Linked DNA regions of Homo sapiens: region 1 is linked to region 2. The links come from fine-mapping of genetic effects on gene expression. A gene starts in region 2. The other region holds a variant in brackets. All regions are shown on one strand. Distances are from middle to middle.

Region 1 (4,396 bases), 92 kb before region 2:
GCTTTTCAGAGAGCCAGTTTACCAGGACACCACTGATTGAAAGTCACCAATGACTTTCACCTGACTCAGTGATCAATTACAGTCTTCAGCTTAACTAATTTATTGGCAGTATTTGACAACAAACTCTTTATCTGACAAATAAACTCTTCCTCCTTCTTAAGTTCTTTCTTCACTAGCCTTTTGGGGCACTATTTTCTCTTATGTTCTCTCCCTCACTTCTCCTCTGTCTCCTTTCTGCTTCCACTTCATCTTTCCGACCTCTAGATATTGGAGTGTTAGCACTCTGTTCAAACGCCTCTTCTTTTCTTTAGCTATACTTCTGCTCCAGGTGTTTTCTTTCAGCCTTCTAGCCTTAAATACATAAATGTACACTTTTAAGCCAGCCCTTGCGCATGAATTCCAGCTTACTTATTCCCCTGACTACTTGGCCTCTCCGCTTGGATGTCTAATAGGCATGTCAAACTAAAATGTCCAAAATGAAACTTCAGTTCTCTCGCCTCTTCTTTCCTCAGTAACCAAAAATGACACTCCAACAATATCCCTCCAGCTCAATAAATGGCAGTTCTAGCTGCACGAGTCACACATTTTGAGTGATCCTTGGTTCAGTTCTTTCTTTGACACCCTACATCCAACGTATTGGCACTACTCTTGGCTCTGACTTTAAAATATATCTAAAATCCACACTTTTCCCCACTTTTACTGCTACTAGCTTGCTAGTAGCTAGTAACTAGCTCCAAGCAACCATCACTTCCAACTTGTGCAACTATGCAATAAACTATGCAACATATCTCCATACAATGTAGACCCAGAGTAAGCCTATAAAAATGAGCTAGATCTTCTTATACTTCTGCTTAAAACACTTTGCTGCCTGTCTTACTTAGAATAAGACCAAATCTTCGTATTGGTCTACAGAGCCCTACAAGGTGTTCCTGCTACCTCTCAGAACTCATCTCCCATCACTCCCACCTAGTTTACTCTGGTCCTGCTAGAGCCTCCCTGCAATTCGCTCAGAGACTTTGCACTTGCTATTCCCTCTACCTGAGAACTCGTTATCCAGACAGTTTCACGGCTCGCTCCTTTACTTCCTGCAGGCCCGCTCTGCATGAAATTAATCCCCTCCATGGCACTTATCACCCTATGGCACACTACAGTATTACCTGTTTATGAGTATACATCCATCTAGGCTTGGTAGACAAATTATCTGCTTTTCTTTTTTATTTAAAAAAATGTTTAAAATTTAAAAATTTTTTATTCTTAAAATTTTATTTTTTAAATTGAAAAAAATGTACATATTCATGAGGTACATAGTGATGTTTCAATACATATAATCATAGTGCTCTGATCAAGATAATTAGCACATCCATCATTTCAAACATTTATCATTTATTTGTGTTGGGAACATACACTATCCGCCTTCTAGCTAGTTGAAACAATATATTATTGTTTGCTATAGTCATCCTACAGTGCTAAAGAACACTAGAATTTATTCCTCCTATCTAGCTGTAATTTTGTATCATTTAATAAATATCTCCCTATCCCTTTATATCTAGCAGTTAGAAGAGTAGTGCTTGGTCCATAGTGAAAGCTCAGTAAATTTTGAATGAATGAATATATTGATGTCACACCAGCAGCTCTGGAGCATGAAGGAAGCTACTATCACCTTCTCTTCTGTGTAAAGCATTAAGTGATAGACACATTTTAAAATGACAAGTGTTCAATTTCTCTGCCAGGCTGTCCTTGCATACAGACTAAATAGGGAGGCTTTTTGGACTGGCAAAACAATTAAATACGACTTGATTCAGGATTAATAGTAACTTATTTGGTGATAATGACATTACAAACTCTTTTCTTCATATTGCAAAAAGAGGATTTCTCCATCTTGAAAGCCTCTTAATTTCATACTTGGAGGACCTGCAGGAAGAACTATAATTGAAACAACTGAAAGTATCCCTTAGGACATTGGCTTTGGTTGATTTGTGGAGTGATGGTAAGGGGTGAGGGAGAAGAGGGAGCAATAAAACAAATGCCAAAGTTTTTAGCAATTTTATATCGCTAGCAATAAAGTAGTCTTTACAATTACATACACATAACAATAACTGTTTCCACCCCGCCATCCCTCATTCTCTTCTGCCATTGATGTTGCCCAAAAACTGAGGCTGAAGTTACCCAGTGAAAATCATGTCCCGCAAAATGTTGTCTTTTACTAAAGATGGTAGAGTACAGGCATGAGGCCTCTCATCCCTAGAATTTTCATGGAGGTAGCTGTGTTTCAGATATCTCTGTAGCTAGAATTCACAGCATGTGCTATGAATCACACATGATTGGTGATCTACGGTACCATTTTTTTTCTCTAAGGTATTGGGATAATTAGATAGGTAGGCCTGAGTTTTAATTATGTCTTATAACATTTTTTATGGGAAAGTGTATTGTGAGATTCAAATTCTTGTTTTATAACTGAATTTTGGAAGACAGAACTTATGTAAGTAAATTGGAAACTCTGGAAACTGCCTGTAT[T/C]GTTATTAGTAGTAAGTAGGATTACTAAATTTAGAGTTCTAGCTAAGCCCAAAAGACAGGTATGTTTTAACCTTCTATGGTAGTAGGAATAATAAGCAGTGATTATCCCTTTTAATTTTCCAAACATGTTATGAGGTGTTAGAGGTTCCATCCATGGTGGAATGTTGGAGAAGCATCAACAGAAAAAAAGAGGCCCACAAATACAAACCCTTTTTTTTTTTTTTTTGAGACGGAGTCTCACTCTGTCACCCAGGCTGGAGTGCAGTGACGCGATCTTGGCTCACTGCAACCTCCGCCTCCCAGGTTCACGCCATTCTCCTGCCTCAGCCTCCCGAGTAGCTGGGACTACAGGCGCCGGCCACCACGCACAGCTAATTTTTTTGTATTTTTAGTAGAGACGGGGTTTCACCATGTTAGCCAGGATGGTCTTGATCTCCTGACCTCATGATCTGCCCGCCTCAGCCTCCCAAAGTGCTGGGATTACAGGCATGAGCCACCGCGCCCAGTCAATACAAACCCTTTCAACACCAGACGGAGTAGCAAAGACACTCCTGGTTGTATGGCCTGGCTAATTTCCAATTGGGTCTAAATACTTTTTCCCATAAAATTACACTCGTTATGCTGTTGGGAAATATGTGCTTCTCTCTCTCTACACACACACACACACACACCCCACACACACACAGACATGTACAATAGAAAATGAAGTCAACCAACATTAAGTTCTGAAAATGTACTACACATTTTGCTGAGTTCTCTATATAAATAACAGTGAATAGTTACCTTCTACATGTGTCAAGTATTTCACATGCATTATATCTAATCCTCACAATAATGAAAGCAAACCCTTATGTGATGTTTTGTGCAAGGCATTGTTCTCAGCGCTTTACCTTGACTAACTCTTTTTTTTTTTTTTTTTTTGACCTGGAGTCTCGCTCTGTCACGAGGCTGGAGTGCAGTGGAGCGATCTCTGCTCACTGCAACTTCTGCCTCCCGGGTTCAAACAATTCTCCTGCCTCAGCCTCCCAAGTAGCTGGGACTACAGGCGCGTGTCACCATGCCTGGCTAATTTTTGTATGTTTAGTAGAGACGGGGTTTCACCATGTTGGCCAGGATGGTCTCAACATGACAGGCTTATGAGGCAGGAGGCAGACACTAACATCACTGCTATCTTCAGATGAGGCACCTGAGGCAAGAGAAGTTAGATGAGACTTGTCCAAGGTCATATCAGGTGTAAACAGCTCACCTAGGTTTTAAGCATAAGCAGTCTGGCTTCAGTCATGTTCTTACACAGCCACATCTTGCTGCCTTTTACACAACAACCTATGAGAAAAGCAGTTTAATTGTCTCCATTTTCCTGACGAAGAACTGCATAAAGTCCCTTGCCTGGTTAAAGGGCGTAATGGGATCCCATCTCAGGGTGCTGACATGAAAGTGTGGGTTCTCACAAAACAGCCTCCCACTATAATATCGTGTCTCTTTAAACAAATACTTGGTTTCACAAAGTCAAGTGGCATGCCTTAAAATTCTTTTGCATAATCCCCCTCGCACAGAAATACCCAAGGCTCTGCATATAGTAGAGCCTATAGTAGAGCTCAACAGAGGAAAGAGATTCACACAGATTGATTTTGCATCATATGTAAATAGGAGCCAAAAAAACCCTTCAACACCACAGCTTCCCTTTATTCTGAGAAAACTCCAAGGAAAACTGACTTTGATTTTCTAAATCATCTTTTGATTTACTCTAGTAGAGGAAAATCAATGCTAAAATAACTATTGAAAGCCATCTGAGATGTGCTGCTCTAACATGACAATGCCAAGGAATATAGACATTAAATTGATCTTGGAATCCAAGCTCCCCTTCCTTACTCAACACAAGACG
Region 2 (4,331 bases):
AGGCCAAAGCAAACTCTACCCTCACAAAAGGTCACAGGACCACAGCCAGAACCATGAGAAAGCCAGGTGCTTACCGCAATCAGGGCTGAGTTCCTCTGGTCCCCTGGGGTTGAAGCGGGCGGCTGCTGCTCTCCGTTTATCCCACCACTGCCACCATTATTGCTACTGTTCAGCAGGTGCTGCTGGTGGTGATGGTGATAGTCTGGTGGGGGCGGTGGGGCTGCTGTTGCTGCTGCTTGGGAGGCCGCAGGAGGGGCAGCAGGGGGCGGTGGAGGGGCTGTAGTGGTGGCAGCAGTGGCGGTGGCCTTGGTGTGTTTGCCAGCTTTCCTTGCCCCCTGGCCATGCTGTACAAGGCTCAGGAGCTGCAAGGTGCTTTCTCTTTCCCGGTCTGAGCTCTCGGCCCTACCTCGTTCATATCGTCCTTCACAGCTCAGGTGGTGTTGGCGGCAGACAGCGATCCGAGCCCGGAGGCGCTCCACGATAGCACTGTGCACTCTCGGGGTGACTGAGCCCCCTCCAAGGAGCCCCGCCCCAGAGGCCCCCCCTAGCCCTCCTGCGGGGGCCTGCGGGGGCGCTGTGTCCCCCATCTTACCGGACACAATGATTGCTGCCTCTGGGATGGTGAGGTGGAAAGAGGCTACTGCTGGCTATTGCAGGCAAGTCTGTTTTTGACAATGTGAGCTCAGTGTTCAGGGCCACATGAATAGAGGTCTTCAGAGGTTGTGGGGGAGCCGTGGAGAAGTTGTGGGGGAGGGGAGTTAGTAAAAAGAGGGTGGGGAGAAAGAATAGAAACCAACTGGGGGGAGGATAAGTTGGAAACAAACCCTGATTAACTTACTCTAATTGCATTTGACAGCTCTGGAGAAGTTGGACAGAGTTGGTGGATTTTTTTTCCTCCACCAAGCTGACAAGAGCCACTAGGTACTTTGTAAACACACGATCTGGGGGTTAGATCAAGAATTCAGGGATTGTCCAGCAAGAGACAGAAACACACAGCAAAAGGTATTGAGAGAGGTATTAATAGAGAGGACTCCCCCTCACCTAGTTGTTTCCGACAATTCTTTATGGGGATGTTTCTGCAGAGAAACACATTTCTACCATGTCTATGTAACCAGCAGCCTTGACTTTTCCTCAGGTTAAATAAAAAACCAAAACAAAACAAAACAGTGCTGTTTCAGAAGATGTTTAAGTCACTGTTCAAAATGTGCAAAAATCAAGGGAGACTGTCTTTTGGCTTTTAATTTTTCCTCCCTTTCCTTTCGCTCCGGTGTTTTCTCCTCTTTGGGGTACTGTAGGATGTTGTCTTCTCCCAAAAGAGGGAGACAGCTTTTCAACTGTTAACAATGTCAGTAATTGGACTTTTGGACCATGCTTTTTTCTTCAGCTAATCCAATCACCGGTAAAATCCTCACTCCCTCTAAGGTTTCCTAGCCTTAAATGAAAAGCAATCTTAAGTCGCTAGCCACTGAGAGAGATCCTTCAACACATTTTTTTCTTTCCCGCTTACGTTTCTATTCCTCACCCCCGGCTCTATTCTAATACAGTATCAAGAGAGACAAACTCTTCCGAGAGTAATTTACAAACGATGGTCAAACTTACAAACTTCCAGCAAATTGCACCGAGTCATGTCCAGCCACTTTTCTGTCCACTTTTGTACATTCCATCCCCGGCCAGTGGATCTGAGGGTCTGGACTCGCAATAAGCAATCTGGTTCTATCTCCTGTATTTGCTCCGCTTTATAGATGGAAAAAAAAAGTAGCTTGTATTTTCCTTTCTCTTTCTCGTCTGTTGTTAGCCGCTTTGCTGACACTGGCTCGCGCCCGGAGTCACGGCGATACACAGGCTTTCATTGTGCTCCGATAGGAGAGGGAGAGAAAGAGAGAGAGTGAGACAGAGAAGGAGAAAGAGAGAGCCAGCAAGCTGCAGATGGGGGTGGGGGGGCGGGGAGAGGGCGGGAGAGCTCGTTCGAGGCTCCCTGGTGGAAGGCTGGTGCCACTGCGCGAGTGAGTAATCGCAGCCAGGCACCGGGGAAAGGGGAACGCAGAGGGCCTCCCAGTGGCTGAAGAGGTAAATCCCAAGCCCTGCGCATCTCAGCTGCCCTGGCTCAGCTCAGCATCAGACTCGGTTAAGCGGGGAAGGCTGGGGAAATTCCCCAACCTCTACACAACCATTTCACCAGCTCTAAATGTTTAAGAAATTCCGGGCCAGGAATGTGTTTTCCCTTTCAGCCCTACATTACGCCCCGCTGAGGATATCATTTTCATTTTTCAGTATATTGTAAATGACACCACTGAGCAACCTAGCACGAGCTGTGTGAGCACCGAGGAAATGTTCATTAATAGAATAAGGAAGATATGAATGTGTGTGTTGAGGGCGGAAGGGGTTGCGCGTGGAGAGGAGAGGTAATCACATTGTTAGCTCCTAAAGGGCAGGCAGGTGTAGCGTTTGTCTACCTGCCTGCCCATTTGTGTGTCTCTGGATAAGTGAGTCTGGGTGATCACAGGCAAATCAGTTGGGATAAATAAAATATTTTATGAGAATGATACAATTATCGATACCAGTTCTAGAAAAAAACGCTTTTTTTTTGGGAATGCATGATTGCCTATGAAAAACCAAATATAAGACCTGAAGTATCCTTAGCTACCTGGTGCACATATACAATGAGGAAAGTCAATGTGTAGCAGCTGAGTTTCAAAAAGTTTTTTTTTTTTTTTTCTTTTAATGGAGTCTTGTTATGTTGCCCAGGCTGGAGTTGAACTCCTGGGCTCAAGTGATCCTCCCACTTGAGCCTCCTGAGTAGCTGGAACTACAGGTACTCACCACTACTGCACCTGGCTCTGAGTTTCAAGAAGTTTAATAATAGAAACCAAATAGATCTCACACAGATCATTGTTCCCCCATTTTCAAGTGATCCAACCTTTAAAATATCCAATCCTGGCCAGGCACAGTGGCTCACGCCTGTAATCCCAGCACTTTGGGAGGCCAAGGCAGGTGTATTACCTGAGTTCAAGAGTTCAAGACCAGCCTGGCCAATATGGTGAAACCCCGTCTCTGCTAAAACTACAAAAATTAGCTGAGCATGGTGTCATACGCCTGTAATCCCAGCTACTCGGGAGGCTGAGACAGGATAATTGCTGGAACCCAGGAGGCGGAGGTCGCAGTGAGCTAAGATCACGCCACTGCGCTCCAACCTGGGCAACAGGGTGAGTCTCTGTCTCCAAAAAAAAAAAAAAAACTTATTGTGGATTCTGCTTATTTTCAATTATGAAGATTAAATTAAGGTGAGCATAATACTGCAACAGTCAGGACCAAAAATATTCTGGGTATCCTAATTTGGAAGTCATTTGGATTTGAGGTCTCAAATAATATACCTTCAGTAATCTAAACAAACTCTGGCATTTCACGAATATGGTCGTTTCAAACTGAGCTATGGATAGAAATAGGCAAAATCAAGGCAAACATCTCAATACTGGATTTATTTGCAATTTAGTTCCCTATAGGATAGCCTACTTTAGTCCATTTTATTTTCACCAATCCTGTTAGCTTGGAAATGGGGACAAATACACTCAGATTTTTTGTTTGTTTTATAATTTCTTTTATTTCTTTTTTTAAATTTTATTATTATTATACTTTAAGTTTTAGGGTACATGTTCACAACGTGCAGGTTTGTTACATATGTATACATGTGCCATGCTGGTGTGCTGCACCCATGAACTCGTTATTTAGCATTAGGCATATCTCCTAATGCTATCTCTCCCCCCTCACCCCACCCCACAACAGTCCCCAGAGTGTGATGTTCCCCTTCCTGTGTCCATGTGATCTCATTGTTCAATTCCCACCTATGAGTGAGAACATGCGGTGTTTGTTTCTTCGTCCTTGTGATAGTTTGCTGAGAATGATGGTTTCCAGCTTCATCCATGTCCCTACAAAGGACATGAACTCATCAATTTTTATGGCTGCATAGTATTCCATGGTGTATATGTGCCACATTTTCTTAATCCAGTCTATCATTGTTGGACATTTGGGTTGGTTCCAAGTCTTTACTATTGTGAATAGTGCCGCAATAAACGTACCAGTGCATGTGTCTCTATAGCAGCATAATTTATAGTCCTTTGGGTATATACCCAGTAATGGGATGGCTGGGTCAAATGGTATTTCTAGTTCTAGATCCCTGAGGAATCGCCACACTGACTTCCACAATGGTTAAACTAGTTTACAGTCCCACCAACAGTGTAAAAGTGTTCCTATTTCTCCACATCCTCTCCAGCACCTGTTGTTTCCTGACTTTTTAATGATTGCCATTCTAACTGGTGTGAGATGGTATCTCATAG

Which allele goes with the higher level. Positions count from the first base shown, and alleles are read on the strand shown. Sizes are in standard deviations (SD) of each study's normalised expression.
For the expression in lymphoblastoid cells of the gene that starts at base 1,887 in region 2, allele C in region 1 goes with a lower level than allele T (small effect, 0.17 SD a copy in GTEx).

Evidence for each region. PIP is the estimated chance that this variant, and not a neighbour inherited with it, causes the effect. A credible set is the group of variants that fine-mapping cannot tell apart.
Region 1: its variant is the best candidate, but not a certain one, in a credible set for the expression of MAML2 in lymphoblastoid cells (GTEx, PIP 0.74).

The regions. Positions count from the first base shown.
Region 1 is chr11:96,249,010-96,253,405 of GRCh38, forward strand. The region is part of intron 1 of MAML2 (mastermind like transcriptional coactivator 2); the gene reads right to left. Among named protein-coding and RNA genes, the nearest start is that of MIR1260B, 90 kb to the right of the region's middle. The variant T/C (reference allele first, on the strand shown) is at 2,515.
Region 2 is chr11:96,341,309-96,345,639 of GRCh38, forward strand. It overlaps MAML2 (mastermind like transcriptional coactivator 2), which reads right to left and starts at 1,887. Exons shown (of 5, transcript NM_032427.4): 1 at 75-1,887. The coding sequence starts at 587. It overlaps MIR1260B (microRNA 1260b), which reads left to right and starts at 130; the gene lies at 130-218. RefSeq lists silencers at 504-763, 1,881-2,070.